Linked DNA regions of Homo sapiens: regions 2, 3, 4 and 5 are each linked to region 1. Evidence: fine-mapped expression QTL. A gene starts in region 1. Each other region holds a variant in brackets. All regions are shown on one strand. Distances are from middle to middle.

Region 1 (5,979 bases):
TGCCCTCTTTGCTATCTTCTCTCAAGGAAGAAGAAAGCAGCATTAGGTTTCATTTCATCTTGGAGAACCATCAGCGAGATCACACAGCCTTATTGCCAACCTTTGACAGTTCTATTACTCTAGTTGCTTTTCCTGAGAGGTCTCCCCTACCCCACCCATCAAAGCCTAACCCTCTCTGACAAGTTTTTCAATTTACCCAATCATCCCATCAGCAGTAAATGCTGAGATTAAAACGTGAGGATCAGAGGGACAGGGCAGCTTTTCTATAGCAGGACTGAGGCTGAGGCCATCAGCAGGGTCAGTATCAAGTGAGCTCCAAGCTCCGGCATCCCTGGCTTAACCCAGGGCCTTGGAAAGCTCACCCCTTTCTCTTATTTTCTCTCCCTATTCTTACTTATTGAGGATTTTAAAATAGTAAAGGAGATACTGCGTTTTTCTGAGTAAATCAAAATAATCAACCAAAAAGCTACAAAGAACTAACCCTAGTTTCCCAAAGAGTTTGTGAGCTAAATAATTTAAATGCTATATACCAGGTGAGGGCACAACAGATGTGTGGAGGGCAGTGGAGTGGGACCGTGCAGGTCCTGTGGGGAACGGGGCTGGGTGAGTTGGATATCCCCATTGGAGAGGATTGGAAAGTCTTTAAAATGTTAATACCCTTGGACTCAATATTCCACTTCTGGGACTCACCTGGAAGGAAATTATTCACACATAGGAGCAAGATTTATGAAGAAAAAATTTTATTGCCATTATTTACAATCAATAAAAGTTGGAAATATTCAATAAAAGGGAAATTATGAGATATTCATATGATAAAAATATTGTATGACATTTAAATTAATGTTTTTTAAAAATCCTCAAAGGAGGAAGAATTTCCCACAAAGTTATTTTTAACAAAAAGCAGGATGCACTTGTGTGTCTGTGTGTGTGTGTGTGTGGTTTTATCTCAACTTAGTTTAAAGCTAGAAAGCTAGAAAAAAGACTGGAAAGAAATATGAATATTACTAATGGCTTTCTCTAGGTGATGAGATTATGAATGCTTTTCTTCCTTTATGTTTCTATATTTTTCAGTTTTTCTAAAATAAACGTTTTCGCCTAGTGCAGTGGCTCATGCCTGTTATCCCAGCACTTTGGGAGGCTGATGAGGGCAGATCGCTTGAGCTCAGGAGTTTGAGACCAGCCTGGGCCATGTGGCAAAACCCCATCTCCACAAAAATTAGCTGGGTATGGTGGTGCATGCCTGTAGTCCCAGCTATGCAGGAGGCTGAGGCAGGAGAATCGCTTGAACTTGGGAGGCAGAGGTTGCAGTGAGCTGAAATTGCACCACTGCCCTCCAGCCTGGGCAATAGAGCAAGATCCTGACTCAAAAAAAAAAAAAAAACTCCAGCGTCAAAAATAAAATAAAATGAGAAGTAGGAGAAATTATTAGAGATTCTGGACCTTTTAGGGCATTTTTCCCTAATATCCACTCAGGCCGTGCCCAGATGGCCTTGCACCTTCAGCTGTGGCATCAAACAAAACTGGGAATTGCAGCTTTACCACTTATCTCGCTGCATAAGCTTCCACAAGCAAGTTACTTACTGTTTGTGCTTTTAGGTTCTTAATATGTAAAACAATGTTTTACATTAAAAATTAAATGAAATAGCTCCTGAAAAGCCCAGTCACATTGTCAGAGCTCAGTAAAAATGTGTTCCCTTATTCTAGTACTGGGGCAGAACACCTGCAGGTTTGTAGGTGGGGAGACAGTGGACAGAGTGGCTGGGTGATGAAGTGGGGCTCTAGAGGATGAGCAGAGATTGCCTCTGAGCCGACACCCTGGCCCTGTCAGTTCCCGTCCTCACATGATGGACATGAAGGGAACACGAATGAAGCAGATGATGATACGGTTAAGTAAATACCACCTGGGACCAGAGAGAGCCCTTCTCAAGGAGTCGCCAGCCCAGAGTCGGCCCTCTTCTGAGCTGGCCGGCTGGAGTCAATCTGCTTTGGACAACACAGCTTCAGATGGAGATAATACTGAGGCCAATGATCCTTGAAGACAAAATAATCTCTGGGCTTCTTTCTGCTCTGATTATAATGTTGCAATTATACTGAGCAGATGCTGATAGGAATTTGGTCAAATCCATCCCGTCTTCCATCTAACTTATTTTAGTGCCTGGTGGATTTCTGTCCAGCTCCACGGGCTGTGGCAATGCCGGGGCTGGCTGGAAGTGTGGAAGGGGCTGGCTGGAAGTGTGGAAGAGGCTGCCCGGGCTCCGGCATCAAGAGGTTTTCTCCGGTGGGGAGGAGTGCGCGATCTGATCCTTGGAGCGCTTGCAACTGTAGCCCTCCCCCAGGGCTCTGCGCTGATCTCCAGGGTCATCATCATAGTAACAGTAAGAACTTCATTTTATAGCATTTTTCAATCTGTAAGACAACGTCGTGTCCTTTATACCGTTGAAATTTCAATTTCACGACTACTCAGATGTTACGCGACTTGCTCAGTATCCAACACTTGGTTCCTTCACTGGCTCCCGGAGACCTGGGTGCTGAAGCCACTGCAAGGAGGTGTGTGCTCGAACACACAGCGAACACCGACTGCGTGGTTAGCAGGATTCGCTGGGGAAGAGGCCTCAGGAGAGTGCTGGAATTTCCAACCTTCGAGGTGCTAGTAACGTGTGTCGAGGAAGGGGTTGGAGAAGGGGAGAAAATGAAAAGAAGGGGAGAAAATGAAAAGATGGGGAGGAGGAGAAATGGTTTGGGTTTGGTTTTGGCTTGAGCCTCACCCAAGCGTCCCACGCCGCAGCTCCGCGGCCTCCTGGGGGCGCCCGCTCGCGTTGCCACGGCGCTCGCGCGGAGCCGCAGCCCGCCCAGCCAGCAGCGCGCGCTCCTGCAGCCCCGGCGGAGTCCCGGCGGGGAGCGCCCGCGTAGGCAGGCACCCGGGGCAGCCCTCCGTCCTCGCCGCGCGGCCTGAGAACCCCTGGGCCCTGGGCGAGGGGGCTGGGCTGTGCAGCCCCCGAGGCTAACTGGGCGGGATCGCAGCTGCAGGGGTTGTGCGAGCAGCCACGGCGGCACCTGTGCCCTGCGGGCACCCACCCTGCCCCTGCCGAGGCAGGCGCCCACCGCCGGCGGTGATGCGGCTGTGAAGCCCTAGTCGGTGAGTACCCTCCAGTCCCCCTGTGGGCGAGCGAATCTAAATGACAAGGTTATGTGTTTTGCTGGATGTCTTCTAAGAATCATTTATTTAGATTGCTTATGGTGGGGAAGCGTTTCCTTTGTGACATCTTTGTGTTTCTCGGATCTATTTCGTTTCCCTCTAAACGCAGCCCTCTCTCCCCTAGTGGGAAAGACACCCAGTATCCGTGTCTCGATCATCGCACGACACCCACCAGTGCGGATGCCACGTACCACACACTCCCCAGAGCCTGCCAGAGAGCAGGGCTGTCTCCCAGCCACGTCCACCCCATTTTCATTGTGCTTCTATCCCGCAGGCAAAGGAAGAGCGTACCCAGGCACCCCCGAGGTAGGCCAGGTGTCAGGACAGCCAGCAGGCCCTTGGCGAAGCCGGGTCCGCTCTGGCTAGCTCAGCGCGGTGAACCCATGAGCTCATTAGGAGCAGCGGCTGCTTTGCGCGGGGAACGCCGGTTTCCCTGCGGCAGAGGGGCCCTGCACCCGCCCGCGGCGCGCGGTGGTGGCCCAGGACCAGTGGCGCACACGCTTGCGCTCCCAGGCTGCAGGGCGCGCTGCGCCGGCGCAGCTCCCGGGCGTGTGCAACAAAAGGACGGCCAAGTTCATTCCCTCCTGGAAGCAGAGGGCGGGGCCGCATGACTTCTGGAGGCTGCATGTGTCTTAGAATCAAATGGTTATGACTCCATAGCAAAATGCTTTCTGTGTGTCAAGTCCTCTCCGTGCCTGCCAACCCCTTCCCTCCTCTCTCCTCCCTAAAATGCTTTCTTATTGGTCTGGCACTGTGATCAACTATTTAGAATTTTCATTGTAAAGAAATGAAAAAAGGGTGAAACCGAGACAAGCTGTAGGCTGAAAGGCTGGGCCCTGTGGTGCTATTCATTAGCTCTCAGGCCTGGCTGCTGGGGAGATTTTTAGAAATCCTGCTACCTGGGTCCAATCCCTGGAGATTCTGACTTAATTGGTCTGGGATATGGCCCAAACACTGGGATTTTTTAAATTTTCTTTTTGTGGGGAGGAGTGGTGGTGGGAAAATTTGGAGTGCATACTGGATTTTTTTTTTTTAACTTCCCAGGTGATTCTAATGAGCTAAGATGGCCACCCACCATTCTAATCAATCAGGGTGACATTTTTCCAGGTGAACTTGGTAATAGTTCAGTCTCTCAGGCTGCCGTTGGAGGGCAGGGTATGCAACTGTCATAAATGCCTACAAGCTACAGGCAAAGAGAGCTGGCAGGGCCTTGGGCTGCTCCAAGAAGCTCAGGATGAAGGCAGTGTCTCAAACGAGGGAGGGATCATCACTCTCGGAACAGGTCCCTTCACTAAATGAAGTGTTCTGATCTATATTCCAGGGCAAGGGGAAAGCAGATGCATACCTTTGCAAGTCTGTAGCATGAAAGCTGTGGCTCCCTGTACATTTGTGGACTTCATGGCTGCCTATGTACTAACCAGAGTCACATGTGTATATCCCCCCACCACCCACTCACTACAAGGAGAATGGACACTTAGAAAGCAGAAGAGGGGGCTGGGCGCAGAGGCTCAGGCCTGTAATCCCAGCACTTTGGGAGCCCGAGGTAGGCAGATCACTTGGGGCCAGGAGTTGGAGACCAGCCTGGCCAACATAGTGAAACTCAGTCTCTACTAAAAATACAAAAATTAACCAGGTGTGGTGGTGCATGCCTGTAGTCCCAGCTACTCGGGAGGCTGAGGCATGAGAATAGCTTGAGCCAGGGAGGTGGAGGTTGCAGTGAGCCAAGATCACACCACTGCACTCCAGCCTGGGTGACAGAGTAAGACTCTGTCTCAAAAGAAAAAAAAAAGGGTGGGGGTGCAGGTCGGAATGCAGTAGTCACTCTGGAGAAGGAAGAGGCAACAAATAAGATCACCTAGAAATTATAAAGTGTTATTATCCTTCTCAGGCCTAAAATCCTTCCACATGGCGAGTCCCTCGTAAGCCTATGGGAAATCCTAGAAACTTCCTCTCCCTGAAAATTGGAGTCCCAGGGTAAAATCTTCCCCACAGGTACTGTTGCAGACTGGGGGTGGGCGGCAAAAAGTTTCCTCTAACCCTTGCCTTCTAAAGTTACCATGAATGTTCATAAACACCAAGGCAGGTGGAGGCAGACACTCCACAGCGAGTTCACAATGACTAAGGGGCTCAAGGAAATTAGATAAGGTCTTAAAACTGGGGGTCTGAAATGTTAAAATTTTACATAAACTAGAAAATGTGATCTACCCACCTGGTGCCAGAACTTCACCAGGCACAGCTTCCTAATGACCTCGCTTTCATTTGGGTTAAGTAGAGAAGGGGTTAAGATCTCCTGCGAGATAGGTATAAATGATGGTACCATATCTTCTGAAACTCTTGGGCACGGCTCAGTCATACACCTCATAAATAGGCAAGGGGATTAAGATGTTGTTTAAAGCATACACAACCCACCCAATGTGGACAACAAAGCTTAATGTGCCAGGGCCACTGAGGGAGTGGCCAGGAAGGGTCTCCCTACCATAGAATGGCCACAGTCTCCCACATGGCCTACCAGATTGCTTGTCTCTGCATGCTCCTTTCTGCATTCCCACGCACTGACTACACACTCCCTCCCTCTCCCATGCCCCACTCCCTCCAAGCAACCCAAAACAGTTAGAACAACTTCCATCCTTCCCTTTAGTCTTTGCTTTTCTAGTCTGTGCATAGCCATGCATGCATCATTTTGTTCCTTCCTGGAGTCAGCCTGACCTCTTGAGACAATGCCTTCATTTCACCTGGGCCTCCCACAGGTTTCCCTAGTACTTACCTGGCTGAGCTGGGCGATG
Region 2 (5,979 bases), 110 kb after region 1:
CTTGATTGCTTGTTTTGGGGGTTACTTTGAACGTGAGTTGACGTCATCATCAGTGATTGTGTTTATTGGGTGCCTCGCTATGATTCAGACATTTTAATGTGTTTGGGGTGACAGAACTGCAAGGCAGAGGTCAGGTCACTTCTGACTTACTTCATTTCTCAGCTGCGTGGATGTTCTTAACTTGGTTTTCATGAAGAAATAGGTTGTTAGCAAAGAATAGAAATGAAAATTAGAAAAGATACAACATAAGTGTTAGGACTGTACTACAGTCCTGCAGGATTAGGGACTTGGAAGAGAACCCAGAGGCTATCTGGGTCTGGCTCTTCTCAGATGCCTCTAGAGAGGGGTCATCCACACCCAGCCAAGCAGAGTGCTGGTCATGAGAAAAATGCCACACTCTTGCAGTGTTCCTGTTAGACTGTCACTGCCCGCCCAGGCTGACTGTTGCATTCCTGGATACCACGTTTTGGTAGCACATTGGAAGTCTTTCTCTAACATGTGTCCAGGTCTCCTTCACCTTCCGCAGCCACGCAGGCCAGGCTAGTGCTTTCCCCAGGACCGGTCCTTCAAGTACAGAGCTGCTGGGCTCCATCCTACCCTCGTCACCTCCACAGAAACACGACTTATTTCTACTCCAGGTCGGGTTATAGCGCAGAGACCCAGTCCCTGCCCTAAGGAAGTTCACAATGGAGGAGAGAGACATTTAAATAATGTCCTTGCAGAGTGGCAGGAGCAGATGAGGAGTGCAGCCGGGTGACAGGCAGGAGAGGGGAAGGGCACAGTGGTGGGGGGAGGAGCTGGCTTCATGTTTCCTCTCCATCCTGCTGAGTGTCAGCTTGATGATAAATAGGATGGAGAGTCAGGATAGATCCCAGGATGCAATACATGTGGATTCAATACCTTCTCATGATAGAAATACTCACCAGACTAGGAATAGAAGAAAATTACCTTCACCTAGTAAAAGCCATATGCGAAAAACCATGGTACGTGTTATGTTCAACAGTGAGAGACAGAAAGCTTTTCCTCGTATGATCAGGAACAAGACAAAGATGCCCACTTTTGCCTCTTCTATCCAACATAATCCTGAAGTTCTATCCAGAGCAGTTAGGCCAGAAAAAGAAATTAAAAGGCATCCAAATTGGAAAGGAAGACAGTTATCTCCATTTGTAGATGATATGATCTTATGTGTAGAAAATCCTACAGATTCCACCAGAAAAACCTGTTCAAGGCTAGTACATAAATCCAACAAAGTAGCAGGATACAAAGTTAATACACAAAAATCAGTTACATTTTTATATACTAATAGTGAACAGTCTGAAAAGGAAATGATGAAAATAATTGTCTACAGTAGCATCAAAAATAATAAAACACTTAGGAATTAGCCAAGGAGGTGAAAGCCTTGTACAGTGAAAACTAAAAAACATCACTGGAATAAATTAAAAGATAAATGAGAACAAATTCACGCTTATGGGTTGGAAGACTTACTATTGTTAAGATGTCACAATTACCCAAACAATACACATTCAGTGTAATCCCTATCAAAATCCCAATGATTTTTTTTTTTTTTTTACAGAAATAGAAAAACCCATCCTAAAATTTACATGGAATCTCAAGGGACCCTGAATAGCCAAAACAGCCCTTCTAAAGGAGACCAAAGCTGGAGGACTCATGCCTCCTGATTTCAAAACTTACTATAAAGCTATACTAATCAAAACAGTGTGGTACTGACATAAAGGCAGACATATAAACCAATGGAATACAATAGAGGGCCCAGAAACATACCCTAACATATATGGTCAAACTATGTTTTGTTAAGAGATGGGGTCTTGCTATGTTGCCCAGGCTGGAGTCTAGCTCCTGGGAGGATCAAATAATCCTCCTGCTTCAGCCTCATGCACCTCACTTACGGTCAAATTATTTTTGACAAGGATACCAGGACTACTCAGTACGGAAAGGACAGGCTTTTCAAATAATGATGCTAAGTTGCCTATGTTGAAGGAAGACAGATCAGGAGCCCGAGGCATGTTGGCGATTTGGGTCCTGGTTTCTGAGGGAAAATATGATCAAGTGTTCCTCTCCACCTACTTTTTTCTTTTTTTGGTTTTTGAGACAGGATCTTGCTCTGTTTCCCAGGCTGGAGTGCAGTGGCATGATCATGGCTCACTGCAGCTTCGACCTCCTGGGCTCAAGCAATCCTCCCACCTCAGCCTCGCATGTAGATGGGACCACAGGCGAATGCCACCACACCCAGCTAATTTTTTTGTTTTTGAAGAGACAGGATCTCACCGTCTTGCCCAGGCTGGTCTTGAACTCCTGGGCTCAAGTGATCTTCCTACCTTGGCCTCCTAAAGTGCTGGGATTACAGGCATGAGCCACCTCACCTGGCCTTCCACCCGCTTTCAAGATCTGTTTAGATGAGACATACCTCTGACTGAATGGGCTAGGGGAAGGCGCAGTTCACAGATTGCTGTGTAAGATTCAGAAATTTGCACGTTCGCTGGTGTGTTCATGGTGCATTGGCTAGGGAGAAAACTAAGCTTCACTCTGATGCCATACTCTTGAAGTGTCATTCTTTTTTGTTGTTTTGTTTCTTTTTTTTTTTCTATTTTTAAACATGATTCTCCTTTCTACTCCCCCACAAACATCCAGCTACCTCTTCTAAGAGCTAGAGATTGAGTGTTCTCATAGCCAGCCAGAAGTCAGTGACAACCTTCAACTATTGTTATAAATAGAAACATAACCATGTCCTGCGTGTGCTTCAGAGGCCGTC[T/C]CTGCAGTGCCATCCTCCACAGCCAAGGCCCATGCGGGGCTTCTGAGTCAGCAGTCAGCTGCTGCGGACAAAACATGCAGGCTGGAGTCAGCTGGCAGAGACTCACAGATGCCTGGAAACCTGGCATCACCTCCTCTTCCTCCCCCAGCCCCCAACCCGGCTCCTCACTTCCTCTACCCCTTCCTTGCACACCTTGGCTTTTCAGTTTCTGGGATTTCTGGCACCTTCCTGCCAGGTTTCCTGGTCTCCAGGTTCCTGTGATTATGAACTGTACACAGGGTGGTGCAGGACAGGCCAGGAGGAGCATGATCTGGCTTTGACCTTAAGGAATGAGGGAAATGGGGGCGGTAACAGAAATAGCCCTGCTCTGCTGTGCTTCCCGGCTGTTGTCAGAGCCAAGGAGAATGCCGGGTAAGCCCCTTGCAGAGTGAGACAGGCCCAGCCCAGCAGAGCCACAGAGCAATGCTGTCACACTCTGGAGGAGTCTTTGCGCTGCAGTCATCATTCAGCTGCAAAGCAGGAAAAGTGAGGCAGCCCAAGGGAATTCATCTTGTGTCGTCTTACCTTGGGTGCCGGTCGCATTGTTCCAGGAGCCATCCTGCCTCTGTTCATCCATTGTCACCAGTGCCCTGCAGGTCGAAATCTCTTCGGCCGGGGAATTAAAACTTGCCTGCTGGTTGGCTCTGCAGCTCTCTGGGAGCTGTGGCTGACATCTGTTAATTTAAAAGTGTTTTCACTAGCAGAAGGATTGGGGACAGTTATTAGTGAAGCCGTTCCTCTGTAGTGGGGTTTGATTTGGAAATTCTTTGTGGCGGTTAGCAGCTCTTTGGAAGTGAATTATTTCAAACCGAGTGGGTGACAACCAGCCATGGGGTTGTTAGCTCACACGTAAGAACTCTTCTTGGGAAATAAGTGCCCAAGACCCTCTTTCAGGGTAGGTGTAAGCCAAGGCAGGCGCTATGACGGGAAGGATTTTGGAGTTATGGGTTGCAGGACCTTTAATGTATTGGCTTCAGCAAGAATGTCATGGTTCTGAGTGCTCTGAATCCTGGCAAGGAGTTGAAAGTGGCTACTGTTTAGAAACAAAGAAAAGTCATTTTCTTCTTTGACATGAGGTAGCGGTGGATCAGACCCAGTGTATGCAAAGCTTACCAAACACTGTGACTCTGGTGGAGTTCAGGTTGACTGTGAATGCAGGCAGGGCACACAGGGTCAGGATTGTGCCATGCTGTGTGCTTGTCAAAGAGCAAGTGAAGCCTCAGAAGTCCCACAAAGAGGTCAGGAGGCAAAGAGGGTCCCTGATGTAGAAAATGGTGTGGGACCTTTGTTTCTAGTCATGGGTTGTCAGCTGTCACCATTTCTCCTGCCTTCACATAAGCACATCTGCTCTTTCCTGCCCTACAAGCCATCTTTTGACTTTCTAACATTTCTAAGATAAGCCTTGGCTTGTAAGATAAATAATGGGCCCTTTTTAGGAACTGTAAAGTATTTCTCTTGCTGCTACCTAGAATAAAACCTTTCTTTTTTGGGGAAACTGAATGTTAATTCCAGTTAACTCCATTTCTTGCTGGCCTCTTGGCCATGTGGCTATTGAGAGAAGCTATGTGTGTTAACAGTGTATTGTTTTTGTTTTGTTTTGTTTTGAGACAGGGTCTCACTCTGTCGCTGAGGCTGGAGTGCAGTGGCACAATCTCAGTTCACTGCAAGCTCCGCCTCCCGAATTCAAGCAATTGTCATGCCTCAGCCTCCTGAATAGCTGGGATTACAGGCGTGTGCCACCACACCTGGCTAATTTTTGTATTTTTTGGTAGAGATAGGGTTTCATCATGTTGGCCAGGCTGGTCTTGAACTCCTGACCTCAAGTGATTCACCCACCTCGGCCTCCCAAAGTGCTGGGATTACAGGCATGAGCCACCACACTGGGCCAGCAGTATAGTTTTTAATATCTAGAGCCAGGAGGGTTTGTTGAGTACGTGATATATTTGAGGCGAAAAGCCCAGCCAGTGTGTTCCATCTGCAATGTATCCTCCACATTATGTGACGAGTGTTGTGTCTGTTGACATAGAAAATATAAGGTGGAGAGGGCAGTTCCTTGTATTTAGTTACAACTTTCTCTCATGAAACTTAAGATGCATCTCATTTGGTTTGGTTTAATCCTGTGATACCATGGTGAGGTGCGGAGAGAAGTGGCATGTCATTTCTACTTCACACTGCTGCTCAGTGTGCTTACCCAAAGTAAGAGCTTCAGGGCCTCTTCTGTATCATTCTGGAACATGGTGCCTGTCTTCCAAGAGTTGGTTTCAGCAGCACCTGCAGCTGAATAGTGGGCAGTCTCTTGCTTCTACATGCCTGCTGAACGTAGTGCATCAACCACTCCCTTCCTCTGTCTGCACCCAACCCCAAGGGTACATCTTTAAAGCAAAGTCCAGTCCAGTTGTGTTGGTCACTCTCGTGGTGAATTGGTGATGTGCCTGTGCTGGGCCATTGTGATGAGAGCACCAGGAGCAAGTGCTGTGGGCATGTGGATTTCTCAGCAGTAGCCTTGGAGAACTTCAGAAGTGAAAGTCTTGGCCAGGCTCACACCTGTAATCCCAGCACTTTGGGAGGCCGAGGCGGGCAGATCACGAGGTCAGGAGATTGAGACCATCCTGGCTAACACGATGAAACCCCGTCTCTACTAAAAATACAAAAAATTAGCCGGGCGTGGTGGCGGGTGCCTGTAGTCCCAGCTACTTGGGAGGCTGAGGCAGGAGAACGGAGTGAACCCAGGAGGTGGAGCTTGCAGTGAGCAGAGATCGCACCACTGTATTCCAGCCTGGGCAACAAAGCGAGACTCCATCTCAAAAAAAAGAAAAAAAGAAAGTCTTAGGGGCGCTGTCTAACCTCCTTGTCTTACACACAAGGAAACTGAGGGTTCGTGCAACAGTGCTTACCCAGAGTTGTGCAGCGGGGTCGTGCAGCTGGGGTCTGGCTGTGTGGGCTCAGCCCTGTGGTCACACTCGTCTTGTCACCCTGACCCACTCTCTACTCACTAGTTTTGTCCTTTGTCCTTTTGCCTCCCACCTTCCAATACAGTTCCAGTGGTGAGGTTTCATCAGATGTGACGCAAAAACGATTCTGCAGACTCACAGGAGCCGGTGGGTGCAGGAGTACACGCGGTGCCATCTCCCACCTCCCAGCCTCTGTCCAGCAGACTCACTGGACGTAGG
Region 3 (5,547 bases), 20 kb after region 1:
TCAGCCTCCCCAGTAGCTGGGATTATAGGCATACACCACCACGCCTGGCTAATTTTGTATTTTTAGTAGAGACGGGGTTTCTCCATGTTGGTCAGGCTGGTCTCAAACTCCTGACCTCAGGTGATCTGCCCTTCTCGACCTCCCAAACTGCTGAGATTAGAGGCATGAGCCACCGTCACCAGCCCAGAAAATATTTTTTAAATTGAAAATAAGATAGCATATTCCACAAATCTTCTACCGGCTCCATTGCGGATTGAATTAGATGATTCTCCCTATTGTTTACTAAGTGTCCAGTTATTTCTGGGCACTCTCCACCTCCGCAGGACACTGCCCATCTCCCCAACCCAGGGCCATTTCTCAACCTAGTGCTCCTTCTCCTACTAGGGGGGCAGACTTCCCAACGTGAGCACCTACATTTCGCCGTAGATGGGATCCACTTGCACTCTCTGAGGTTCTCAGGCAGATTCCTTCCTTACGGAAGGGGGTCTGATATTTAATCACCCCATGCACTAAGTACACACTTCATGTGCGGATCCATCAGGATAACCCCACACAAGCTGCCAGTTCTTTGCTTGTAGTGGGTGCCCAATAAATGTTTGAATGCATAAAGAAAGCACTCAGATAAGCAGAGACATTTTAGAGCTCTCTGGGGATGAGAAAAGAGAGAGCTATGGGAGTGAGAATTAACTTGATTGACTATGGCTGGACCTGGCAAAGAACAACTCAGAAGTATTGGCCTCACAATCACCTTGTTCAGGCTGCTTAATCAATATTAAAAGTTTGCTGCTCCCACACAATTTTGCTAGGCTCTCCAACCCTGTGAGGATGTCAACAGTTGAAAAAGAAGAAATAATGAGCCCAGCCTGTATTTGCAGGGGAGTGTTAAAACTGCCGGTGGAGCAGGATAGTTTGCTAAACAGCCAGTTGAGAACTTTCCCAAACTGGTCGGCAGCAGCATTGCACACAGAAGTCCCTTCTTCATTGACATGGGGCTAATTCTAGCCACCAGCACTCCAGCGGTACGGGGCAGTTTTGTGGCCTTTTGCTATTGAATCTGCCAGATGTGTCCAAGACACACTCTCATGGGCAGAATATAAACAACAAACCAGTATAAAGAAGTCCACAGTGATCTCACCCTTCATAGAAGTCTTCTTTGACTTGTTTTCTGGCCCCCTGTAAGCACTCCTTGTACCACACTCCCTAAACCCTGTGGCTTAGGTTTTGCTATTTTGTATTTGTTTCCTCCTTCTCTGGTTGTTACATGTAAAAAGGTTGTGTTCACGCAGGGGGCAGGAATTGCAATGGAAAGAATGCAGTGTGGAAAGCCAGGCTCAGTTACTTACCAGCCTTGCTACCTTAGCCAAACGGTCATGCTCTCTGAGCTGTAGTTTCCTTCCTCATCTGTGAATAGACTTCTACCAACTCTCCTCACATGACTGTTTTGAGACTGAAATGATATTATAGGTATAGAAATAAATGTAAACATAATATAAATGTATGAGGCCTGGCGTAGTGGCTCACGCCTGTAACCCCAGCACTTTAGGAAGTCGAGGCAGGTGGATCACCTGAGGTCAGGAGTTCGAGACCAGCCTGGCCAAGATAGCGAAACCCCCATCTCTACTAAAAATATAAAAATTAGCCAAGCGTGGTGGCACGAGCCTGTAATCTCAGCTACTTGGGAGGCTGAGGCATGAGAATCGCTTGAAATCAGGAGGCAGAGGTTGCAGTGAGCCGAGATTGCGCCACTGTACTCCAGCCTGGGTGACAGAGTGTGACTCTGCCTCAAAAAAAATAAAAAAAAACAAAATAAAAATAAAAATAAATAAGTAAATATATGAGATTATCTTTCATCTGGCATGCAGTAGATTCTTAAGAAACTCAAGACAGTATTGCGTTGTGGAGTTATGGTGGGGGCACTAGATGTCAGACCTCTGTGTGCACTCGGGCAGATCAGTTTCACTAAGCTCTTGTGTTTTCCTCAGGAAGGCAAAACGGTACTAAGGCGAATAATAAGGAACATCACAGAATTGATATGAGGGTGAAGTTAAATAATGCGGGCAAAGCACTTCCCAACAGTACCTAGCACATAGTGAGCACTTAATAAATGTAAGCTGTGGCTGCTGCTGCTGTGGCCATCAGGGAGATAGGGAAATATGTCAATAAGAAATGTATATTGGCCGGGCACGGCGGCTCATGCCTATAATCCCAGCACTTTGGGAGGCCGAGGCGGGTGGATCACCTGAGGTTGGGATTTCAAGACCAGCCTGACCAACATGGAGAAACCCCGTCCCTACTAAAAATACAAAATTAGCTGGGCGTGTTGGCGCATGCCTGTAATCCCAGCTACTCGGGAGGCTGAGGCAGGAGAATCGCTTGAACCCAGGAGGCGGAGTTTGTGGTGAGCCGAGATCATGCACTCCAGCCTGGGCAACAAGAACGAAACTCAGTCTCAAAAGAAAAAGAAAAAAAAAAAAAAGAAATGTATATTGGGGCAGAGAGCATGGACAGTTGGGTTATGGCAAGGCACAGAGTAGAAATGGAAGCTCTGTAAGCTAGCAGCTTCTGGCAATCAATCTGGAAGGCTTCATGGAGGGATGCACTTTCCAGAGCTCTTTGGATTATAGTTGGAAGATGAGTTATCTGGAGGTATTAGAAAGGCTATCCCAGGGGCCAGGCGCAGTGGCTCATGCCTGTAATCCCAGCACTCTGGGAGGCCGAGGCAGGCACATCACAGGGTCAGGAGATCGAGACCATCCTGGCCAACATGGCGAAACCCTGTCTCTACTAAAAATACAAAAATTAGCCAGGTGTGGTGGCAGGTATCTGTGGTCCCAGCTACTTGGGAGGCTGAGGCAGGAGAATCAGTTGAACCCGGGAGGCGGAGGTTGCAGTGAGCTGAGATGGCACCACCGCACTCCAGACTTGCAACACAGCGAGACTCCATCTTAAAAAAAAAAAAATAAAGAAAGGGTATCCCAGACTCCCTGCGTGATTGGAAGCTGGTTGAGTGGCAGTGGGGTGACCAGCTGTTGGGAGGTTGAAAAGTTCTGAACTAAAGAAGATGGAGCTGAAGCTTGGTAGCCA[A/G]ATTGTAAGCCTAGCAGGCTGGTGTAAAGCTCTAAAACAGAGCAGACCCCAAGGAGTGGTTAGAAAGTCTGAAATTTGGCTTGTAGTGTGGATGAAAGCACAATTGGCCATGTGTGGTTGAATGGTTGTCACAGATTGAGTTAGGGACGAGCACTTTCGCAGCTCTAGGGAGGGGTGAGCAGTGGGGTTTGTTGCTGAAGGCAGGAATTGTGGACAGCTCATTGGGTGAATGAATTATTAATCGAAGTTTTGTCTGATTATGAGAAGGAAGGGAGAAGGAAGAGAAAGGGGTGCTTCCTGGAGAAGTAGAAATTATGAACTACTTGGAGGTGGAGGGCCCCACACATAAGAAGAATATTCTTCTCTAAGAGATGAGGGACCCAGAAAGAAGACAGGATTCATCTTTACCAAAGGTGGGGTTGATACTGTCGCTGAAAGTAGGTGTCAGAAAGTCTATCGACTTTCAACTAAAGTTCTTTTTTTTTTTTTTTTGAGATGGAGTCTTGCTCTGTTGCCCAGGCTGGAGTGCAGTGGTGCAATCTTGGCTCACTGAAAGCTCCGCCTCCCGAGTTCACACCATTATCCTGCCTCAGCCTCCTGAGTAGCTGGGACTACAGGCGCCCACCACCACGCCCAGCTAATTTTGTTTTTGTATCTTTAGTAGAGATGGGGTTTCACCGTGTTATCCAGGATGGTCTGGATCTCCTGACCTCGTGATCTGCCTGCCTTGGCCTCCCAAAGTGCTGGGATTATAGGCGTGAGCCACCGCGCCCAGCCTAAAGTTCTTTAAGATAGTGGATAATGCTCAAAGTTGAAGAATATTTGCAGGTATTGCTATTCCTGTGCAAAGGATGATAGGATCACACATGAAGTGTGTGAAGGCCATCAGACACCAAGTGCATTCCAGTATCCTCATTGGACCAGATGATGAAACTGAGGCCGAGGGTTGTACTTACCTGCTCAAGGTCATACAAGATATATTTGGTTCAATTCGCTCTATATTTTCGTTTTCTTTTTTTTAGACAGAGGCTCACTCTGTTGTCCAGGCTGGAGTGCAATGGCACGATCTGGGCTCAGTTCAACCTCCGCCTCCTGGGTTCAAGCGATTCTCCTGCCTCAGCCTCCTAAGTAGCTGAGATTACAGACGCGCGCCACCATGCCTGGCTATTTTTTGTATTTTTAGTAGAGACGGGGTTTCACCATGTTGGTAAGGCCGGCCTCGAGCTCCTGACCTTGTGATCTGCTCGCCTCGGCCTCCCTCCCAAAGTGCTGGGATTACAGGCGTGTGCCACCGCGCCCGCCCTCTGCTCTATATTTTCTCTTAGCGCCCTCCTCCAAAAATTTGAAATTCCCCCTAACCTCTTTGCTTCCCAACTAGAATGAAAATCCTAGTTTCATTTTGCGGCAACTAAGAGCAACAAACAAGTCTCCTTTATTATTATTTTTTCTTTCTTTAGATGGAGTCTCGCTCTGTTGCCCAGGCTGTAGTGCAGTGGCACCATCTCGGCTCACTGCAACTTCCGCCTCCCGGGTTCAAGTGATTCTCCTGCCTCAGCCTCCAGAGTAGCTGGGACTACAGGCCCGTGCAACCACGCCCGGCTAATTTTTGTATTTTCAGTAGAGTCAGGGTTTCATCATGTTGGCCCGGCTGGTCTTGAACTCTTGACCTCAAGTGATCCGCATGCCTCGGCTCCCCAAAGTGTTGGGATTACAGGCGTTAGCCACCGCGCCCGGCCAACAAGTCCCCTTTAAATACATCCTCTCTTCTCTCCGGGGGCAGGCTTTGATATGCCCACCGGGTTTCTCCATTGGCCACTTCATGTGGCTTCTCGCCCCTTCCAAGATTCCCAACCAATCAGTTCTTTCCCGTCTCCCGTTGGGCTTTGAGGAATGTACCATATGGATCCTGCAGGGGGACGGAGAGGACGAAGGGCGTGGCGACAGCTTATTTCTTTGCCTTTTGCACATATCCCGTGAGATTCTGGCAAGACTGAGCGTGCAAGTAGCAATGGAGTCCCTGAGGACGGGGGCCGCTTGCCAGTTTTCGAGGTGTACTGAGATATCTCGCCCCCGAGGCTGGGGTCCCGTGGTCCGGCCCGAGGGCCACAACCCCCGCCCTTCCATGTGCCCGCCCATCCCCCGGCTGCGCCGCTTCTCCGGCTGCTACCTACCGCGCCGGACGCTCGGGCTGCGGAACAGGGCGGCACTGGCCCGCCACAGCGACGCCGGCGCCGAGGGACACCGCAGTATGAGGCAGAGGTAAGAACGGGGCTTCGGGACTCCGACCCGCGCCAACCGTCCCCGGGGAGCCGCATCCTGCTCGCGCCCGAGCTCGGGGTCTCGGGCACCGGGCTGGTTCCGGCGGGCGGTTCTGGAGCGGGTGGCCCCGCGAGCGGACGCGCGCCGAGCCTCCCGCCCGGGCAGTGCCGAAGCCGGGAGCCGCCGCGGCGCGGGCGCCTCCTT
Region 4 (5,000 bases), 150 kb after region 1:
GGTATGTTTCTATAAAATGTGAGTTTCAAGAGCAGGATCTATGGAAAGACATTTTCCCACCTAGGGTGGCCTGTTTAAAGTGTGACCGTATTAACGTGACTGATTTTAAAGGCCCCACCTGTGTCCATGGTTCTCAGAACTGAGCCGTTGCAGGTTGAGCAGCTGCTGGGTGCCTTCATCTACACAAGAGCTAGCCGTCCTCAGCGTCCGCTGTCGCCTGGAAAGCACGCTCAGTTCTTCTCAAGCTGTGTCTCCGTCAGTTCTCACAGTAACCCTGTGAGGCAGGTGCTGTTACTGGCTCCGTTTTACCAGGGAGGAGACTGAAGTATAGAGTGGAGAGGCCATGTCACGTGTCTGAGCCGCATAGTAAGCAATGCAGCCAGACTCGAATCTGGCTTGTGGGACCGGGGCTACGCTCTGGCCTCCCTCTGCCCACAGAGACATTATGCTCACGGGTGCTAGATAGGAGCAGCCACGTCAGAGGCCTTGGGGCTGTTTTTCCACCCGCACGTGGCTGTAAGGTGAACCCTTAGCCAGCCAGAGAGTAATGCGAGGAGCCTTCCCTGGTCCTGTGATTGCCGCTTCTGGCTCCTCGGATGAGCAAGGCCATGTCCCTACCTGCAGGTCTTTACCCTTTCACATATACCTTCCCGTCCATTCGCCAAAAACACATTCACTTCTCCCTTTAGTAAATTATGCTTTGGCCCGATGCTCCTATTCAGGAACCACTTCCCACTCTGGAGTTTCCTCTGGACTGCTGTCTTAGTCATTTATTCTAGCCAATTCCCACCTCCCCACCTTTGCTTTCTAAAATGTCTTGTTGTGGAATGTGTCACCCTTTTAACCTGCCTCTCCTTCTAAACCTTCCATTTGATGCCTCTGATCTTATGCCACTGTGTGAAAGAAATATGCTTGTTCCACCTTTGTACTAACCATAGTTCTTCATTGATCCGTGTAGCTGGCCTCGTCGGAGGCCAGTGGGGGGTGGAATGGCTGTGCAGAAAGTCGGCCTTGTGTCATGGGATTTGATACAGATGGGATTATGGTTACCTGGGGATGGGGTTAGTAGGGGAAGGCGATATGTGTTGAACTCTGCATTTCTGCCCCTGAATTTCCCACTGTCGTTTAGTAGGTCCAAATAGAGCGATATGCATGGAGCTTAAGTTTCTACTTTGTTGCCAACAGACATACAGGGATCTTGATGCTGACAACCGTGGCAAGCAGAGCCCCCACCATGAGAGGGTAAAAGAGCATGAACCCGTGGCATGGGATGCTGAGAGCCAAGCACACGGGGCACGCTGTGGTGGTGGGGCAGCGGGAAGGGATATGGGGGACGGCCCCCTCCCCTTGCTTTTTGCACGCTCTTGTCACCCAGCCAAGAGCCAGAATTCTTTTTGCTAGCAGTGTTGACCAATGCAAATAGCATTCACTGTAAAGCAGTCACCCATCTGGCATTCAGATGGGATGCTGATCCTAAATGTGCGTATTGTAAAGGGCCTTAATGACTTCCCATTTCTGCCCACTGTTCCCCTTCCAAGACCATACTATTTCTACCCCCAAACTATGTGCCAGTGGTAGAGTAGTAGCATTGGACTGTCAGATACAACTTCTTAGGGAGAGGGTCTAAATCAGTATTCAAGTGGCATTCAGCAGTCACGGATCTTGAAGTGGAAATCCTAAGAGAGCCAAAGCTCTTACCAGCGTGAGGATTTTTCCAGTGGGATGAGAATGAGGGGGAGAAAGGTAGGTGATGGCAAAATGGGGCTGTACCCGTGGAAAGCTTTAGTCTTTTCTGAAACACTGAGGGGAGAAATTACTGATTGCAGCTGGCCATCGTACAATGTGAGGGATAGCCGAGATGCCCAGTTAAAGAAGCCGGCTTACTTTATGAAACTTTTGTTCTTGTTATTCCTACCCTTAAAGATCTCCAAGTGGGTACAGCTCTGCAGCTAGCGGGAAGAATCATCTCTAGTTGTTAATCTCACAAAAGCCATTTTGGTTTCTAACTCCCTTCTGCCTTTGCTCTCTGAGAAATGCAGTTATGGCCAAGCAGTAAATTAGGTTACCCCTCGGACCCGATAGGAGCTAATCATAGTGCCATCTTCCTGCGCCCTCTCACCAGGCTAGCAGCGGGCAATGTGTGTGCTGCCTGAACCTGGTGCTGGGTCGGAGAGTGGAGACTGGGCTGGAGGTGGGGGTCTTTCCCACCCCCTTTCCATGGCCTCGCCCCACGGTGCTCACCCTTTCTGGGGCTGCTCTCCCACGGCGCTGTGTGCCCAGCCTCTTTCTCTCTTCTTCCCAGGCTGTGTCCCCTCAAAAAGGAAAGCAGCCCTTTTCACTGAGCAGGGCAGTGCCCTCCATTTTGCAGATTGTGTATTTAATGAGATGCTGATAATGTTTAATGAAACAGCGCCTAAAAGAAGAAGGGAGGGGAAGGCCGGGTGCGGTGGCTCAGGCCTGTAATCCCAGCACTTTGGGAGGCCGAGGCAGGCAGATCACGAGGTCAGGAGATCGAGACCATCCTGGCTAACACAGTGAAAACCTGTCTCTACTGAAAATACAAAAAAATTAGCCAGGCATGGTGGCGGGTGCCTGTAGTCTCCGCCACTGGGGAGGCTGAGGCAGGAGAATGGCATCAACCCAGGAGGCAGAGCTTGCAGTGAGCCAAGATCGCGCCACTGCACTCCAGCCTGGGCGACAGAGCCAGGGCGACAGAATCAGACTC[G/A]GTCTCAAAAAAAAGAAGAAGGGAGGGGAGCATGTTGAATAGGAGAGATTGGCAGTGAGAAACAATTTGAAGTTTAGGGCTGTGGTGCAGAGAGGGGATGAGTTAGGGTTTTTGAGCTCAGGAGGCAATAAGGCTTGCAGAGATGTTTCTCTCTTTTTCCCTCTGAACTGGTTTCTGCACTCCTCAGTGCAGGGCTCCAGGCTGGATACTTTTGAGGACACTACTTAAGTTCTTTTCTTGGACTCTGCTGCCATCCTCCATAACCTCCCTAACCTCCATAACTTCCCTAACCTCCCTAACCTCCATAACCTCCCTCACCTCCATAACCTCCCTCACCTCCCTAACCTCCCTAACCTCCATAACCTCCCTAACCTCCATAACCTCCCTAACCTCCATAATCTCCCTAACCTCCATAACCTCCCTCACCTCCATAATCTCCCTAACCTCCATAACTTCCCTAACCTCCCTAACCTCCATAACCTCCCTCACCTCCCTAACCTCCATAACCTCCCTAACCTCCCTAACCTCCATAACCTCCCTAACCTCCCTAACCTCCATAACCTCCCTAACCTCCATAACCTCCCTAACCTCCATAACTTCCCTAACCTCCCTAACCTCCCTAACCTCCATAACCTCCCTAACCTCCATAACCTCCATAACCTCCCTAACCTCCATAACTTCCCTAACCTCCCTAACCTCCATAACCTCCCTAACCTCCATAACCTCCCTAACCTCCATAACCTCCCTAACCTCCATAACCTCCCTAACCTCCATAACCTCCATAACTTCCCTAACCTCCATAACCTCCCTAACCTCCATAACCTCCCTAACCTCCATAACCTCCATAACCTCCATAACCTCCCTCACCTCCCTAACCTCCCTAACCTCCATAACCTCCCTAACCTCCATAACCTCCATAACCTCCCTAACCTCCCTAACCTCCATAACCTCCCTAACCTCCCTAACCTCCATAACCTCCCTAACCTCCCTAACCTCCCTAACCTCCATAACCTCCCTAACCTCCCTAACCTCCATAACCTCCCTAACCTCCCTAACCTCCATAACTTCCCTAACCTCCCTAACCTCCATAACTTCCCTAACCTCCTTAACCTCCCTAACCTCCATAAGCTCCCTAACCTCCATAACCTCCCTAACCTCCATAACCCTGCATGTGTACTTGCCCTCTCTGCCCCACCTCTACCCAGTCCTACCCAGTCCCCCACTCCTCCCCTTGGCTCTGACTGCTCTGCCCCCCAGGGGGCTACTGAGTCTCCCTCTTGCTTCCTTCTGAGGGGCGGTGCTTACAGCCATCCTCTCCAGCTCCCTCTGGGGCCTGTGTTGCTGAGCCCAGGGCCAAGGAGCTGGCTGAGTGTCTCAAGCAGAGGGTGTTGAAGTACCAGGTAACTGCCAGTCTATGTCGCCACCCCACGGAGCTATGAAGTGCACGTGGCTGAGGTAGGGAGTGTGACCAATCTGGCTTGGAGCTGGAGGAGCAGAGGGCTTTCTAGCATCATGACTTAATGCTGTCCTTCCCACCTGTAAATAGTTCATTCTGAACCTGGTGGGAAATGAAGCAGTTATTGGTTGCCAAAGCTTTCGGTCACTGCCTCAATCTCTGGGGACTGGGTTCCTAGCTGCATGGGCCCACGGCTAAGGGAGACCCTTGCCCAGTTTTGTTACGTGTGCTATGTGCAGTCTGCAGAGGATTTGGGCTCAAGTCTTTTCTCCTCATCTTTGCTTGGGATTCAGCTGGCTCTTTGGCAAGCAGAGCCTCTCTGAGCACTAAGTGGAAGGAAGAGATGCTGCATTCCTGGCCCTTCTGTAGAAGGAGCGAGCTTCACTCTAGATTTGCTGTCTCCGCTGCCTGCTACTTCTAAGGCCAATGGAGTGATAGGGTGGCGGGAGAATCTTTTTGCCCTGGAGAAATCCCAGCTCAGGCCGGGGGTTGCTTGGCAGAGCACAGAGCATGTGAGTCGACAAGCCATCCCCCTGCCCTTCCTGCAGGCTGCCTTACCCATTCAGAGGGAGGCCGAGGCTGTGCCGGGCGGCCCACAGCTGCGGGACCGCGTTCCAGGGTGTGCTCTGCTGCAAGCATGAGGGAAGGACAGTTAAAAGCAAAACGGAAGCCTTGCATGGGCCGCTTATGCTTCTGGAGCTACTTTTTTTTTTTTTTTTTTTTTACTATACATGGTATTTAGATAAAGGTCTAGAGTAAAAGGCTCTACAACCATCTTATGTTCAGAGGTCAGTGTGTGACTTAATTTAACATTTCCTT
Region 5 (5,979 bases), 97 kb after region 1:
TTTAGTTATTCTGATGGGTGATAGGATCTCATTATGGTTTTGATGGACTTCCTGTGACTAATATGTTAAACACCTGTTCACATGCCTTGGTGATTTGAGTGTCCTCTTTTGTGATATGCCTGATCAAATCTTCTGCCCGTTTTTCCTTTGGTGTCTGTTTTTTTCCGTATTGGTTTATACAGAATTTTTCTACATTCCAGATATGAGAGTTTTCTTGGTTACACATAGCCCTTTTGCTTTAAAGAGGTTTATTCCTTCTGAAATGGAGCATAGAGGCCGGGCGCAGTGGCTCACGCCTGTAATCCCAGCACTTTGGGAGGCCAAGGCGGGTGGATCACCTGAGGTCAGGAGTTCGAGACCAGCCTGGGCATCAGGTGAAACCCTGTCTCTACTAAAAATACAAAAAATTAGCCAGGCGTGGTGGCGGGCATCTGTAGTCCCAGCTACTCAAGAGGCTGAGGCAGGAGAATGGCATGAACCCGGGAGGCGGAGGTAGCAGTGAGCCGAGATAGCGCCACTGCACTCCAACCTGGGCAACAGAGCAAGACCCTGTCAAAAAAAAAAAAAAAAAAAGAAAAGAAAAGGAAAGAAAGAAAAATGAAATAGAGCACAGATGGGTTTCAGGCCTGTTTACAGAGGGGAGCCTTTGGAAAAAATGTTGTTACTTATCGGTCTTTTTTCAGGAATTGGAAGTTAAATAACCCAACTTACACATGGTTTTAAAAACAAAATATTGGAGGCTGGGCATGGTGGCTCATGCCTCTTAATCCTAGCACTTGGAGAGACCAGGACAGGAGGATTGCTTGAAGCCAGGAGTTTGAGATTAGCCTGTGCAACAGAACTAGACTTTGCCTCTAAAAAAAAAAAAAAAAAAAATTAGCCAGGCGTGGTGGTGCACATCTGTAGTTCCATCTACTTGGGAGGCTGAGGTAGGGGGAATTGTTTGACCCAGGAGTTTGAGGTTACGGTGAGCTATGATGGCATCACTACACTCCAGCCTGGCAGACAGAGGGAGACTCTTTCTTTAAAAAAGGAAAAAAAAAAAAAAGGGCCGGGCACCGTGGCTCATGCTTGTAATCCCAGCACTTTGGGAGGCCGAGGCGGGCAGATCACAAGGTCAGGAGTTCGAGACCATCCTGGCTAACACAGTGAAACCCCATCTCTACTAAAAATACAAAAATTAGCCAGGCGTGGTGGCGGGCGCCTGTAGTCCCAGCTACTTGGGAGGCTGAGGCAGGAGAAAGGCGTGAACCCGGGAGGTGGAGCTTGCAGTGAGCGGAGATCACGACACTGCACTCCAGCCTGGGTGACAGAGTGAGACTCCGTCTTAAGAAAAAAAAGTTCTAAGGGTGCCAGTCATTTGTCACATCAGGGTTGTGTCATTACAGTGATTATGGTCACCCCCCTATGGGGCATGTAACACAATATATAAAGCCACGGTATGAAACATCTAAGTGTTCTGGTTGTTCATCGTATCAGGGCAGTGTTATTTCAAGGAGTGAATGTGTCCACCAAAGCGTGGTGCATGTACTGCATTACGTAAAGTTGGCTTTATGTTTCTTAAGTGCTCCTTGCACATGTGAATCACAGTAGTCTTATCTCAGTGAGTGAATGTGTTCACCACACTAGATATATCTCATACACTACATGAAGACGCATGCAGACAGGTGTTTCTTTCTTTCTTTCTTTCTTTCTTTTTTTTTGAGACGGAGTCTTGCTGTTTCGCCCAGGCTGGTGTGCAGTGGTGCAATCTTGGCTCACTGCAAGCTCCGCCTCCCGGGTTCACGCCATTCTCCTGCCTCAGCCTCCTGAGTAGCTGGGACTACAGATGCCCGCCACCACGCCCCGCTAATTTTTTGTATTTTTAGTAGAGGCGGGGTTTCACCGTGTTAGCCAGGATGGTCTCGATCTCCTGACCTCGTGATGCGCCCGCCTCGGCCTCCCAAAGTGCTGGGATTACAGGCATGAGCCACCGCGCCCGGCCCACGGACAGGTGTTTCTAACAGTACTATTCCTCGCATCAGGTAGCGTTCCTGCAGTGGGTGAATGTGTCCACCACGCTATGCTGCATATAGTAAAGTATGGCAAGACACATGTAAATAAAACCCAATTTATCTCGAGTGCTCAGAGTATACAGTCAGAAGCCAAACCTTTAATTCACTCCCCAAAGATCTGAGTGTGTGTTGTGGTTCTGGCGCTGCTAAATGCTGGGAATAGAAACCAGACGCAGAGCCACTTGCTGTCTTGTAGGAGCCCAGCACCTGGTGGGAGGTGCTTGGAGAACAGAGGTAAGATCTGGGTGTAGGAAGAAGGGAAGGGCAAAGTTGTTCTGAGAAGGGCTTGGAGATGTGGCCCTAAAGCCCCGATGGATGAGGAGGTTCATATTTGTCATCTGCCTTAGTTCAGAGAAGACTGAAGCAGCTCAGAGGACAAGCAGAGGTTCAGAGAAGTGTGTGCACGGGTGGGGAAAGTGTGTTCTAGGCTGTGAAAAGAAACTGTGCTGGAAAGAACATGGGTGTTCCTGGAGCAGCAGGCAGATGTCGGGGGCTGAGTACAGGGGTGTTGGGAGGTTAAGGTGATGAGGGTGGAGGTGAAGCAGGACCTGCAGCCCCAAGGTTAGCCTGGTAGAGAAATGGTGTCTTTCAAAGTGTAAGCAAGGGGGTGGCTTAAGTAGATTTGTTTAGAAAGATCACTTTGGAAGAAACATAGTATGGGAATTGCACACTTGAGCAGGGTGTATTTGTGTCCCCATGTTTATGGCAGCATTGTGCACAGTAGTCAGAAGGTAGAAACAGCCCAGTTGTCCATTGATGGGTGAATGGAGAAACTAAATGCAATGTGGACTACAATGGAATTATTATTCAGCCATAAAAATGAATGAGGTCATGGTATATGTTACAATGTGGATGAACCTTGAAGCCCTTATACTAAGTGAAATAAGCCAGACACAGAGAGACAAATACATGATTCTACTTATATGAGGTACCTGGAATAGACAGATTCATAGAGCCAGAGTAGAATGGTGACAACCATGGGCTGAGGAAGGGGAAATGGGGAGCCAGTGTTTAATGGGTACAGAGTTTCTGTTGCGGATGACAAAAAAGTTCTGGAGATAGACAGTGGC[G/A]ATGGTTGTGCAACATTGTGAATGGATTTAATACCACTGAATTGTACAATTAAAAATGGTTAAAAACAACTTTTATGTTATATATATCTTAACACAATAAGAAAATAAACCAAAATTACCTTGAAGAAGGGTCTACATTTAAGAGACTATTGCAAGGGTCCAGGTAGAGATAATGAAGTCCAATGCAGTGACGTTAGAAAGGAAGGAATAAATGGGCGAGGAATTTAGGAAGAGCAAATGCGAATATACCCTGCACTGTGCTGCCTCCCCACCATGCTTAGCATGGTACAGTTGCCTGCACGCCCACGCCTCCGGCCTTTTGCAGTGGGAAGTAGGAGCGGTGTGGAGGCCAACACCTGGAGTTCTGACTTAGGTAGATGGCAGTTTTACTAGAATTGAGATTCAGGGAGAGACATAAGTTTGGGAAGGAAGATGGGGTTCTATTTTGAGTAACCTGAGTTGGAGCAGAATATGTATGCCCTGGCATATTCTGATGGAGATGTCCAGGGGACAGTTACAAAGATGGTGCTAGAACAAAATAGAAAGAGGGCCAAGGACAGAGCCCTGAGCATCCTCTTTACTTAGAAAGTGGCATAAAAAGCCGGAGGAGCATGCACAGAGAAACCAGGGCAGGAGAGTTCAGCTATATAATCCTTTGTTCTCCACCAGGTTTGCTTTTCGGTTACTCTACAGATTCACGCTTCTCCCCTGGGATATTCCTTTTCCAAGCCAGGCTGTTGTTGGGAGGGCACAGACGTCCTGGAATGCCAAGGTTGAGGATGGTGAAATGGACTCAGGGAAGTTGGATTGTATATCGGGAAGTTGTAGACCTTTAGTCTTCTAACCAGTTCTGCTTTGTTGATTCCACTGTCCTTTCATTGCATCTTTGCTCATGTTCTACTGATGAAGAAAAATTGAGAGCTTTGACCAGCATCAAGGTCAAGATGAAAGACATCAGTAAGACCTTACAGTCCCATGGATACCATCACTTAAAATGCCTGTGCGTTTATGTTTTCCAAGTCAAAACATTTTTTTTCATAAATTTTATTTTATTTCTTTGATCAGTGATTTAGAAAATGTTTGGGTTTGGGACTCACAGCCTGTCATTTTGTACAGTATTTTTGAAAGCACCCAGCTGTCAGGAGGAAGGGACAATGCCTGTTTGAGGATTTAACTGAAACGTGTTTGATGCCTTGGCTGTGGTGCTAAGATCTGTCATGGTGAAGAGAGATTTGTGCAGTAGTACCCTTCCGACACTGTGGAAGGAGGGGTGCCGGGAAAACATGGACAGATGAACGGGTTCTTCATTTTAGTTTGAGAAGCACTATTCTCAACAAGAGTTACTTAAAAAAAAATTGTTTAAGTTTCCAGGTCCTCCAGCCAAGCCCAGATGAATGCTTTTCAGGCAGAGGCAAGATAGCTGTGACCTCCTCAGCTTTCTGCCTGCTCTGAGCTCCCTTCGTGTTGCTGAATTGGCAGCAACAAGTAGATATCAACTTCTTTTTTCACATTCCTCGTAAAACTGACTGAACCATAATCGTCTTCAGGTTTGGGAGATATTAAATATCCCCTCCAGGGTGATGGTTGCACAAGTTGGCAGATTTACTAAAAATCACTGATTGTACACTGAAAACGGGTGACTCTTATTGTCTGTAAGTTATACTGCAATCAAGTGGTATAGAAAAACATGCCCTCCAGTCCTGAGAACAGTATGTTTTTCTGGCCTGGTGGTGGTTTTTGGGGAGCCAGAAGCCCTGCTCTGAGTCCTTTGGTTTCCTGGCCGAGCCCTTCAGAGGTCCTGATGTCAGGAACTTGGTACAGCTTGTGGCTCTCACCTGGCTCCCTTCCCCTTGCTCTCTCAGGTGCTCGGCACCTAGTGTGGTTGGAATATTTACCAGGAATGAGCCAAGCCCATTTTGGTTTCTGGCCAGAGGGTAGCTCTCCAGGATCCAGAGCCCAATATCCAGTTTGTGGCTTATTCGGATCCCAGGACTCTTTCCCCCCGTTGCTATTTGGTCAATTTCATTGTTCTGTTGGCACCCAGTTTGCAGGGTGTGTTAGGCCATTGTTGTGTTGTTATAAAGAAATACCTGTTGCCAGCAGGGATGGAAGCTTACTGTGAACAGTGGGTTGAGTTGCCCTGAGGAAGGAAGGTCAGAGCACTGGAGCTATTGTGGGCATGTTACTATGTCATCCTGCAGCAATGTTTATGAAATACCTGCTGTTCTCACACTGTGGCTTGAGATGCTCTGGGGCTTCTGGTTGCAGGTCTTCTGAAATACAGGGTTGCTTAATTAAGGTCCTTTAACAAAGTACGTCCATGGTGTTTAGCACAGGTTGAATATCTCTTCTGAAATGCTTGGGATCAGATGTGTTTTGGATTTCATATTTTTTTCAGGTTTTAGAATATTTGCACTATACCTACCAGTTGAGCATCCCTAATTGGAAAATCTGCCATCAGAAATGCTCCATTGAGTGTTTCCTTTGAGTGTCCTGTTGATGCTCAAAAACATTGAGATTTTGGAATATTTCCAGTTTTGGATTTACAGATTTGAGATGCCCAACCTGTATCTATATCAAATATTTATTTAAGTTGAACAGAGTACATTGGCTTTTCCTTGCCCCAGTGAGTGGTATTTCTCAAGGCGGTATATTTAATCTGTACCTGAACTGGTCCGAGGGGTGAGATGTGCCTGATCCGCTGGCTGTGCCCTGGTGAGTTGGAGTCTGTGGAGCTTGACTGCAGACACAGAGCTCTCCAGGATTTGTGAGAGGACTGACGGTGTCCTTTGGTGGCCTTCCCATAAGGATGGTGATATGGTTTGGCTGTGTACCCACCCAAATCTCATACTGAA

Direction of the effects. Alleles are on the strand shown, and positions count from the first base shown. SD is a standard deviation of normalised expression in the study named. Not every link is listed here.
In carriers of allele T in region 2, the expression in spinal cord of the gene that starts at base 2,856 in region 1 tends to be lower than with C alone (small effect, 0.39 SD a copy in GTEx).
As copies of A replace G in region 4, the expression in left ventricle of the gene that starts at base 2,856 in region 1 goes up (moderate effect, 0.41 SD a copy in GTEx).

The links. PIP is the estimated chance that this variant, and not a neighbour inherited with it, causes the effect. A credible set is the group of variants that fine-mapping cannot tell apart.
Region 2: its variant is the best candidate, but not a certain one, in a credible set for the expression of MICAL3 in spinal cord (GTEx, PIP 0.80).
Region 3: its variant is the best candidate, but not a certain one, in a credible set for the expression of MICAL3 in whole blood (INTERVAL, PIP 0.70).
Region 4: its variant is the best candidate, but not a certain one, in a credible set for the expression of MICAL3 in left ventricle (GTEx, PIP 0.73).
Region 5: its variant is the best candidate, but not a certain one, in a credible set for the expression of MICAL3 in whole blood (TOPMed, PIP 0.59).

Annotation. Positions count from the first base shown.
Region 1 is chr22:18,021,438-18,027,416 of GRCh38, reverse strand. It overlaps MICAL3 (microtubule associated monooxygenase, calponin and LIM domain containing 3), which reads left to right and starts at 2,856. Exons shown (of 32, transcript NM_015241.3): 1 at 2,856-3,136. RefSeq lists a silencer at 2,719-3,128.
Region 2 is chr22:17,907,959-17,913,937 of GRCh38, reverse strand. The region is part of intron 1 of MICAL3 (microtubule associated monooxygenase, calponin and LIM domain containing 3); the gene reads left to right. Among named protein-coding and RNA genes, the nearest start is that of MIR648, 70 kb to the left of the region's middle. RefSeq lists enhancers at 2,595-2,864, 2,875-2,924 and a silencer at 3,121-3,415. The variant T/C (reference allele first, on the strand shown) is at 2,771.
Region 3 is chr22:18,001,189-18,006,735 of GRCh38, reverse strand. All of the region lies in intron 1 of MICAL3 (microtubule associated monooxygenase, calponin and LIM domain containing 3), which reads left to right. Among named protein-coding and RNA genes, the nearest start is that of MICAL3, 21 kb to the left of the region's middle. RefSeq lists an enhancer at 4,549-5,245 and a silencer at 5,181-5,547. The variant A/G (reference allele first, on the strand shown) is at 3,085.
Region 4 is chr22:17,875,588-17,880,587 of GRCh38, reverse strand. The region is part of intron 16 of MICAL3 (microtubule associated monooxygenase, calponin and LIM domain containing 3); the gene reads left to right. Among named protein-coding and RNA genes, the nearest start is that of LINC00528, 100 kb to the right of the region's middle. The variant G/A (reference allele first, on the strand shown) is at 2,726.
Region 5 is chr22:17,924,163-17,930,141 of GRCh38, reverse strand. All of the region lies in intron 1 of MICAL3 (microtubule associated monooxygenase, calponin and LIM domain containing 3), which reads left to right. Among named protein-coding and RNA genes, the nearest start is that of MIR648, 54 kb to the left of the region's middle. The variant G/A (reference allele first, on the strand shown) is at 3,125.